Regions from separate parts of the Homo sapiens genome. Here region 2 is linked to region 1. A link means that fine-mapping ties the variant in region 1 to the expression of a gene that starts in the linked region. Tissue or cell type: pancreas. Region 1 holds a variant in brackets; the other region holds the start of a gene. All regions are shown on one strand. Distances are from middle to middle.

The links. PIP is the estimated chance that this variant, and not a neighbour inherited with it, causes the effect.
Region 2: it holds the start of FCHO2, and the variant in region 1 is fine-mapped to the expression of FCHO2 in pancreas (GTEx, PIP 0.95).

Annotation. Positions count from the first base shown.
Region 1 is chr5:72,849,754-72,854,971 of GRCh38, reverse strand. It overlaps TNPO1 (transportin 1), which reads right to left. Exons shown (of 25, transcript NM_002270.4): 3 at 3,653-3,728. Among named protein-coding and RNA genes, the nearest start is that of MIR4804, 26 kb to the left of the region's middle. The variant G/C (reference allele first, on the strand shown) is at 2,956.
Region 2 is chr5:72,953,610-72,958,742 of GRCh38, reverse strand. FCHO2 (FCH and mu domain containing endocytic adaptor 2) reads right to left here and starts at 2,702. Exons shown (of 26, transcript NM_138782.3): 1 at 2,614-2,702. The coding sequence starts at 2,646. FCHO2-DT (FCHO2 divergent transcript) reads left to right here and starts at 2,859. Exons shown (of 2, transcript NR_186392.1): 1 at 2,859-3,729. RefSeq lists a silencer at 2,110-2,809.

The DNA of each region.
Region 1 (5,218 bases):
GTGTCAAAAAAATATAATATTGAAAAATTAAGTGGACAAAGAATATATAAGACCTTCATGTAACAAATATAATTGCTGTTAATTTATATCATGTTTTTCATTTGCCTCTGAACTTAAAAGCAAAAAAATACCTCCAAAAACATTTAAAAAGAGTTTTCTTAAAATAAGTTTAATCCATAGATAGTATTTACAAATTTTCAAAAAGCTACTTAATACTAGTAGAACATAACTGACGGCTTTACCAGTTGGCATCAACACCAACAATATTAGCAATAGTTAACATCTTCGAAATGCTTATGATTTATTAAACATTGCTAAGTGCTTTCCAAGTGGCACTGCACTTAATCCTTACAACTTCATGAGGCAGGTATTATTCACCCCATTGCACAAGTGAAGAAACTAAGGACTTTGAATCATTCTTCAGTATTACCCCCACTCAAAGGGCTATAAGATGAAGAGCTGGCATGTTGAACAGAATGTTATTGTAAAACCATTGTTTTACCCGTCTTATTAAAAAATAATATATCCCAAGCTTGTTCTAGTTAGTATGATGTTCCCAAACTCTGAATGGCACTGAAATCTTCAAGAGTGAAGCAACATGTAGAGGCAAAAAGAGCAGTTTCTCTGCACACAAACTTCATTCAGGTCATCACAGCACTATAAAACCTTGTATGTCATCATTTAAAAACTACTTTCCATTTTCAATTACAACCCATTGCGAGACTCCGTCTCAAACCAAAACAAAACAAACAAAAATACCTTTAAATTCTCTTAAAAGTTAAAAACTGCCATGAAATAAATGAAGCCAGATATTTAACTTCTTTAAGCAATAAACTTGCCTTAAATTACCTGTTAATAATTCAGCCATATAATTATTTTAAATGGCATGACTTTGTTTACGAGAAATATAGTATATTGTTTTTACCATAAAGGTTACAAGATGAAGAATTTTAATAAACCACAACATGAGGTGAAACAATTCAATATTAAAAGTATATACTCTCTTAAAATCCATTTAAAAAATTCAACGACTAACGATTTCCTTTGTTTTACAAAAATTAAGACTACTTCAGTGTACCCTCAATTTGTTCATTTGTAAAGTGAGATAATTAGAGCAGCTGATCTGAGATCTCTTACAGATCAAAAATTTTACTCTACAATTCAGTGATAAGATTACTACATAAGCATTTTCATTTAAGATGTTACTTGTATTGCTGCTTTAATATGAACAGCCATGATGCAAAGATTTTTTTAAAATGGAAAACTACATGCAGCAAACTTGTGTCCCAATCTTCCCAGGGAAAAAAAAAAATGCATAAACACAAGAAGAAATATCAAGTGTTACACCAACGTAAAACTACTGCATCCTCAGAGAAACTGCATAATGAACATAAGAAACACATTTTAGGGTCAAGAAAATCTGAATAAAATCCTTTCCAACATTTTATGGTTTTGTAATTAATGTCTTTGTGGAAGCAATGACTTCCAAACCCTCTTGCCACTACTTAACAAGTTGTGTGTTTGTGTTTTTTTAAGTACTTCTGAAGCACTTAAGTACACTGGAGTGCAGTGGCACGATCACAGCTCACTGTAGCCTTGACCTCCTGAGCTCAGGTGATCCTCCCACCTCAGCCTCCTGAGTAGCGGGACCACAGGTGTGTGCCACTATGCCAGCTAATTTTTACAGAGATGGAGTTTCACCATTCACTATGTTGCTGATCTTGAACTCCTTGCCTGAAGCAATCTTCCTGCTTTGGCCTCTCAAAGTGCTGGGATTACAGGCGTGAGCCACCTTGCCTGGCCTGAGGTATCCTTATATCCCAAGAAAGAGCCACCTTGCCTGGCCTGAAGGAAGTATCCTTATATCCCAAGAAAGCTGTACTCAAGAGTATAATATTGTAACAATCCTAATATTTGGAATGTAGGATAAGAACATGAGAGTGGACAGCTTAGTGAAAATAAATTTAAAAATTTCAAATAAAACAATTAGATTTAAAAAATCCATTTATAAATATCTTAGTATAAGAAACAAACAGGTTGATCACAAACTGTCAGAAAAATTTCTATATTAAGAAGCAATGTATCGCAAATATCAAACTAGGAATATTAATTGTTGAAATAATTCTTAGTTTCTTAAAACCTAGACTTAAGAGTTCTAAATTTTCTATTGTGTCCTTCATTCACAAATTAAAATCCCCCAAATTAACTACAAAATCAACTGAAAATAATTCAAAAGAAATCACCGTGCAAGAATTATGAAAATCTGAATACAAATCAGTGAGTTTTTACTACACAATAACACTATTAACCTGTCAGAATTTGGAGCTGAAACTTTACAGATGGTCTGGTTGTCTAAACCTTGTTATTTCCCAATTCCAAGTGCAGTGATTTTATTAATTGCACCATGGCTTCTAAAACACTAATCACTGAATAGGGTACAGCGCTTTCATTTAGAGGCCAATCAGTTGCGCAATAAATATTTAATTGACTTCTATGTGTCCACAATGTTTCAGGGAGGGAATACCCAAATAATGCTATGAGAAACAACTCTCACTACAACGTAAGCTCCTTGAGGGCAGTGATTTTTGTCTGTTTTGTTCACCTTTCTCTCCTGAGCCTGTAAATTGCATGGCAGAGATGGCGCTCCATAAATATTTATGAAATAATGTCTAGTGGGATGCGTTACATATTATTAGAAATAATCAAATGACCATGTTATTTAAAAATCAGACTACTCAGGCTTTAAACTGTCATAGAAATCATTTAAATTTAAAATTAAGAGTCATGAAAAAGTTTCATGTAGACTTTTAGAAGTTTTTTAAAAAGTTACAAAAGTCTACTTATCAATAGAATGATCCCACTTTTTGCTAAATAATTTTAAAATAGTATGTGACCATATAAGAGCAGAGAAGGATATAATTGAAGAGATCAACAATAATCATCTCTGGAAGATGG[G/C]ATAAATAATTTTTCATTTTGATTATATGACCTTTCAATTTTTTTCTACAAAAAACACACATATTCAGTTATTAAAACCTACATTCAATCTTTGTATTACAACCTTTGTTATATCCATCTATATGCATGAAAGCAAAACATTAAAGTAGACTTTGCAACAAGTTTTTCATCTGCAAAGAATTAAGTAACTTATTATACAAACACCCTATTAAAAATGAATGCTGGCTGGGCACAGTGGCTCACACCTGCAATCCGAGCACTTTGGGAGACTGCGGCAGGCGAATCCCCAGAGGCCAGGAGTTCAAGGTTAGCCTGGCCAACAAGGCAAAACTCTGTCTCTACTAAAAATACAAAAAAATTAGCTGGATGTGATGGCGCATGCCTGTAATCCCGGCTACTAGGGAGGTTTGGCATGAGCATTGCTTGAACCCGGGAGGCAGATATTGTAGTGAGCCAAGATCGCACCACTGCACTCCAGCCTGGGTGATAGAGTGAGACTCTGTCTGTATATACATTAAAAAAAAGGAATTCTTATTAAACATGTAAATACTGAGTGGTATTAACTAAGACTGTTTATCCCACATCTATAAAGCACAAGGTTACTACAAAATGAAATCCTTTGAAATGAATAATTCTCAGTACATTTAAACAGGTCTTAAAGAAACTTTAAATAGTTATCAATACAAATCCTACTTACCTTCAGATTTTAATTTTGTAAGAACAAAAATCAAGTAGTTGTTAAAGTCTGGATACTGATTAAGTTGTTCCAGTTTCTAGAACAAACAGTAGTTAAGGAAACTTCTCTGTGTAATCTCAGGAAGAAATTAAGCATTTTAAATCTAAAAATCAAGGATCTCTTTGGTGGTATTTTCAGTCCTGCGTTTTTTTTTTAAACTAAGAATAAGGATATCTTACTAAATCTATCAACATCTATTTCAAAAACACGCTAGTGCTTGCTAAACCTCTTAGGTGCTTTATGGCTGAAATGTATCAATTACATGCAATACAACATAAGAAAGTTCCAGCTTCAGCATGCTCAATATAGCAAAAAATATTCAAAAAAATTCTTGGATTTCAACTTTAAACCATTCTAAATAGAAAGGTATTTAAGCATAAAATGACAAAAATAAAAGCATTCCAAATGAAAACAAGTCTTTCAGAGTTGAAGATCATTTAGAGAAATTAACTTTATAGAATAACTTTTAAAAAAAAGATACTTCTCAGACTCATTTGTTCTTTAGAATCCAAAAAGATAAAGTGCCATTTATGCACAAGGCTATATATCTTATTATAAAGTCAGCATTATGAGATTATTGCACTACAGCTGTACAATTCTTCCCCTCATCCCCAAGATGCAACATTTTTAGTGATACCAATTTGCAGGTATTTCATCGCTGTCGGGAGGCAGCTGTGACAAAATGCTCTATTACATCTTTCTTCAAGCCCTGACTCCCAACCCCTAACTAACATGCTTCCCAATTGTGTTTTACTACACAGAAAGATTAAAATGTTTTGTCACCCAACAAATCTAAATTTCTGATTAAATCCATGAATCAAACTCCAGTAACACTTTATTAGCTATTTATTACATATTTGAATACCCTCAATGTTTATGGGTCAGAAAGTAAACGAACCAACAACATAGTCTCTAGTAAAACTGCAAGGTGTAACTACTTTCTCCAACCAAGACAGTAATTCTTGTTTTAGTGAATGGCCCAGATTAACAACAAGCTGATATGCCAATGAATTTTTCAAAACTATTTCCTGATAAAGTTTACCTTTTTACAACTTAAGCTACATCTCTTTATCCTATTATAGCGGTCTTTCAAAAAGTACTCAAAAGCCTATACAAAATAATAATTAAATATATTATCTTCTTAGGAGAAACAAAATAAGGCACTCTGAAACAGCAGTATGTATTCTTAGCTAAAGTAGTTTTCCTCTCACAGCAACAGAAAGTTGTTCTTTCTCAGAGGACATACTAAGTTCCAGGCACACAGAATAAACTGTAAATTGACTACTTGCCCAAGCACGGTACTAAGCATTTATGAGGTACCTAATAAATGTAGACTAAAACAAGAAATTATGATATATGGTGCCACAGAATAACTACAATGCAGGATTGGGCTTAGCTAATTTAAGAAACTAGTAACTGTATCATATAATACCTGCAATTAATCAACTATCAACTTCTATCATCCCTAGAACTATGACAACACAAATTAAGACTGAGCCATAGCACTGTTTACAAGATACAAACGGC
Region 2 (5,133 bases), 100 kb before region 1:
CATTGTAAAACCTAATGCCTAAAATTGACAGGCTAATCCTAAAATTCATCTGGAAATGCAAGGAACCCAGGGCAGTCAAAATAATCCTGAAAAAGAAGGAAAAAGCTAGAGGACTCATACTTCCTGATTCCAAATTTGCTATACAAAACAAATTTGTAATCCAAACAACAGCAATCCAAACTGTGTGTTACTGGCTGTCGTAAGGGAAGACAATGGAATAGAATTGAAAATACAGAAATGAATCCATACATTTCTGGTCGATTGATATTTGACAATGGTACCACAATTCAACGGGGAAAGATGAACCTTTTCAACAAATGGTACTGGGACAACTGGATACACAATTGCAAAAGAATGAAGTTATACCTTTCCCTTGCACCATACACAAAAATTAACTTCAAATGGATCATAGAACTAAACAGAAGAAGTAAAACTATAAAACCCTTACAAGAAAACAAGAAAAAAGGCGTAATTTTTGGGTTAGGCAAATAATTTTTGGGTTAGATGCAATAAAAGCACAAGTAATAGAAAAAAATAGATAAGATGGACTTCACCAAGACTTCACGAGAAATAAAAACTTATGAGTTACTTCAAAGAGCAGCATCAAGAAAATGAAAAGGCAGGCCACAGAATGGGAGAAAATGTTTGCACATTATGTATCAGATAAGGTGTGTATCCAGAATATTAAAAAAAAAAAAACTCTTACAACTCAATTATAAAAAAAGACAACCCAATTTTTAAATGGGCAATTAATCTAAATAGACATTTCTCCAAAGAAAATATAAAAATAGGCAATAAGCACATTAACTGTGATGTTAAGCATCAAAGAAACGCAAATCGAACCACAATAAAATATTAATACTACTTCACGTTCACTCACTATATTATAATAAAAAGGACAAATAAGTGTTCGTGAGCATGTGGAGAGGAACCCTCAGATATTGCTGGTGGGATTGTAAAATGCTACAACCACTTCAGAATAGTATGGCAGTTCCTCAAAATGTTAAACATAGAGCTACGATTTGACCCAGGAATCCCATTCCCAAAAGAAATGAAAACATATGTTCACACAAAAACTTGTACAAAAATGTTCATGCAGCATTATTCATAACCCAAAAGTGGGAACAACCAGATGTCCATCACTGATTGGATAAATATTAATAAAATGTGGAATGGAATATTATTTGACCATAAAAAGGAATTAGTAGTGATACATGCTACATCATGGATAAACTTTGAGAACATTATGCTAAGTGAAAGAAACTGGTCACCATGGCCCCATTTATAGGATATGTCCAGACTAGACAAATGCAGAGAGGCAGAAAATACATTAGTTGCCTAGGCCTGGGGCAGGGGGAAAATGGGGAGTGACTGCTAATGGGTCTAGGGATTCTTTCTGGGATAACGAAATTGTTGTAAAACTGATATGGTGATGTTTACACAACTCTATGAACATATGAAAAAACCTCTGAATTGTACTACACTTTAAATGAGTGTATTGGTACGGAAATGTGAACTCAATAAAGCTGTTTAAAAAACAAAACACCTAAGGTCTAGTATATACGTTCTTTGTGGAAAACAAGGTACATTCAAGACAAATAAATAACTATGAACTGATCTGATTACTAACCAAGACCATGCTTGAGGCACTTAGAATTAAGAATTTAACATACATTCCTTACTAGCTAAAAGATTACCCCTTTAAATATGTCTAAATCTCAACGAAAATGGACCTGCAGTACTTGCAACTGTCAGGGCATAAAATGGGATTCACGAAAGATACCTGAGTAAACACGTTCCTTTCCTGTACATGGCTGAACTGTACTTCCCATTACAAAAAAAAAAACAATAACTGCAGAAAAATACTCCACCGGGAGCCGGAGAAATTCTCAAAGAAGAATCTAATACTGAGCTAAGACAAGGGGTGGAAAGAATGAGGAAGGGGAAGGAGCACAGAGTAGGGGGAGGTCTCCATGCATTTAAGCCCAAGGAGTCCAGTTACATTAAATCCAACTTTTAAACGCTTTGTGAACAGGCCCAGAGGCAAAGTCCTGGGCGCAAACCCACGAGCCGAGCTGCGAGGCTGAGAGGAAGTGCTAGTCCAGCCCAACCCCGCACTGGATTTGGTGTGGAAACCGTCAGAGGTAAAAGGGATCGCTCAGATGGGGGGCCCGCGGTGAGGGCAGGAGGCAAAACCCCACCGCCCGGCGCTCCCAGCCAGCGCGCAGCGGGAGGCGGCTGTGCCGCGGGCCCGTCCTTCGCGTCCGAGCTGCCGCGCACGCCCCGCGCGGAGCGCGGCACCGGGAGCCTCCGGTGGGGCTGGGTCCCGTCTCCCGCCCCATCCGGCGCTTTGTCCCAGCCCCGGTGGCCGGCGGCCCCGCTGCGGGCCCCCGGGCCGCGGTGACAGCCCCCGTCCCCATAGGGCTGCGAGCCCGGGAGTCCCTATAGGCTGGCGACCGGTCGCCCGCCGGACCTCACCCAGGCGGGACGCGGCAGGAGGACGCTCGCCCTGCCGGAGGGGCCGCCGCCGCCGCCCGAAGCGCACGCAGGCCAAGCTCAGGCGCCAAAAGCCTTGGACTTCGAAACACACGACTTCCAACATCCTAAGCTTACCCAAAAATTCTCGACGAAATACGCCATGACCATCGTGCCGCCGCCGCGCCGGGTTCCGCGTCCGCGCCCGCCCGCCGCTGTGTAAACACGGCCCGGCCCCCACAGCACCCCCGCCTTTCGCCGCCGCCGCCTTCTTCCCAGAGACCGGCCCGCACCTTCCAGGGCGCATGCGCCACCTAGCGGCTGCCGCAGCTGGGCGAGCACTTAGACGCCACGGCCACGGTGTGCGCATGCGCCCTGTCCCCATTCTCGGGTGTTGGTAGATCTCTCTGCATCCCGGGCGCGGCTGGGTTGAGTGTTCTCTTAGGAATGGTGGAGAACTGGGTCCTTGAGGAGTCACCGGGGAGACTGCTCGCACTGTTTGTGGTGCGACGGGCACTGGCCCAGGGACAGAGGGAAGAGAAGGGCCAGCCAGCGGCAGTGGAGTCGGCAGGCTGGCTGCCCACTCGCTTTCTCTCCTCACAAGACTCGCTTCCCCGGCCTTCGAGGATCTCGAACGGACTATAGTCTGGACTCGCTGGGCTGGAGGAAACTTGGCCGCTGGCCACCCGGAGGAGACTGAGAAGCCTTTGGTCAACAGGGCGCCTTTCCTTGAACCAAAACAAAACTTTCCGAAGCCGGAAAGGAAACGCCCAGTGTCGCCTGAGAGCCCTGGAGCTGCGCGAGACCCAGGCACTGAGTGCGGCCTCGGCCTCTGACCTCTAACACGCCGGGAACAAACCAGCTGGGGCGGCCCGCAGGCCTGCGGGAGCGGAATGTGACCCGAAACCGACGGACTTCCTGACCCATAGTCCATAGTTCTCTTCAGCAACTTGAACATTTTGGAAAAAGAAACAAGTCTTAACATGCCACGACCTAATGGAAAAACTAAATCCCCTTCCTACACCTTGCTTTCCAAAAGTTAAAAAAAAATAGTTAAACGCTATTAGAGGTCTCAAGTTCACTGTCACCAGATCAGCTAGGTCCAGAATCTTCAGTTCTTGAAGCCAAGCCCTACAAATAGATTTATTGTAGCATATCACACCTCTTCAGGTGACTTAAAACAATGAGAATTCATGAGAAATTATCTTCATCCTCAAGTAAAAATCATGAGGTGCCTTTCACATGGATGAAATTGTAAGTGCTTGTTGAACAAGGAATAATTGGATAATGGTATTGTGGTCATACTTTTTAAGAATATCTGTTAGAAAGATATAGGATGCAGAACATCTAGGATTTGCTGAAAGTCATTTATTATGGATAGGGGTATGAGTAAGGTCATAGATGAAAAGGGATGAAACAAGATTGGCCATAGTTGCTCTATTTTTGTGTATCTTGTTTCTTTATTTTGTTTCTTTAAAAAGTCCTCATATCACTGACATTTACACTTAGTTTTAGGGAAAGTCAAATTTAGAAATAAGCTACAGCTCTCTAAGCTATCGGTCTAACTGGATTTTTCTCGATGCTGAAGAACTTTTTAAAAAATTCAGCCATCTAGGTCACACAGCAAATACATTTGGCATTAAATTCCTAGTATCACTAAAGTACTCCCTCCCACCGCCGCGCCCCCCCCCTTCCCCCCGCACCCTTAGACCTGGGCAAGAGAGACTTCTATCCTGGACTCCATGCTTTAAAGGAACTTACATATCACACACACACATTAATTTAAAAAAAAATAGGTGCCCCTGCCGCTTGTGATCTGATACTGAACACTGGCTCATAACCATAAATTCCCTCTCCCAGTGAAGAACACTATTCAGGCCCCAGGAAAACTCTTCTTCCTATCTTTTGTCTTCTGTCCTCAAAACAAACGGTGAACTCCAAAAGCAGTGAAAATTTGTACATAGCATGGCTGCCCATTTCAGAGACTGCTTTGGAGTCAGAATTTGAGCAGCAGAAATGCTTAGGTAAGAGAGAAGACAAATTAACTTGTCAAATCCTTCATCTCAGCTTGAATGCTATAGATTCCTGCATGACAAAGTATTGTTTCTCAGTAGTATCAAGCATACATTTTCCTTTTGTTAGTGTTCCAATGTGTGGCTATTACCTACAGACAATTTAGTATAGTATTCACAATAGTTACTGGCCTTCATTCGCATTCTTCTGCTCCCCTTAAATTTAGGAGTAGATCTGGAATGAAAATAAGTATTCTGAGTATTTCAGGTATTTGCAAGGTTCATTAGGGCCGAAACACCATATCCTGTAATTGCCTGATGTTTAAGTTGTGGAACTTTATAGTAAACAGTGATTAAGGTGACTAAATTTCAGACAAGACTGTGTAGTATAGGAAGAGCGTGGATGGTATCAGCCTCCTTCTGCACTCTCAAGTGAGGTTTCCAGGGATGAACATACATTCTGGCAGAGCATAGATAAGCTCCTGAGTGGGTAGTGCTGGGTGGGGTTACAGGCATGAGCCACCGAGCTTATATGCGTTAAAGTGTTTGTGCCACACTCTCTTAGACTTTGCTTATCAAAATGTATTTCATTTTGAAATTATTAAAAACCAACATAGATAACAACAGTGTACAAGTCACTGCCTAT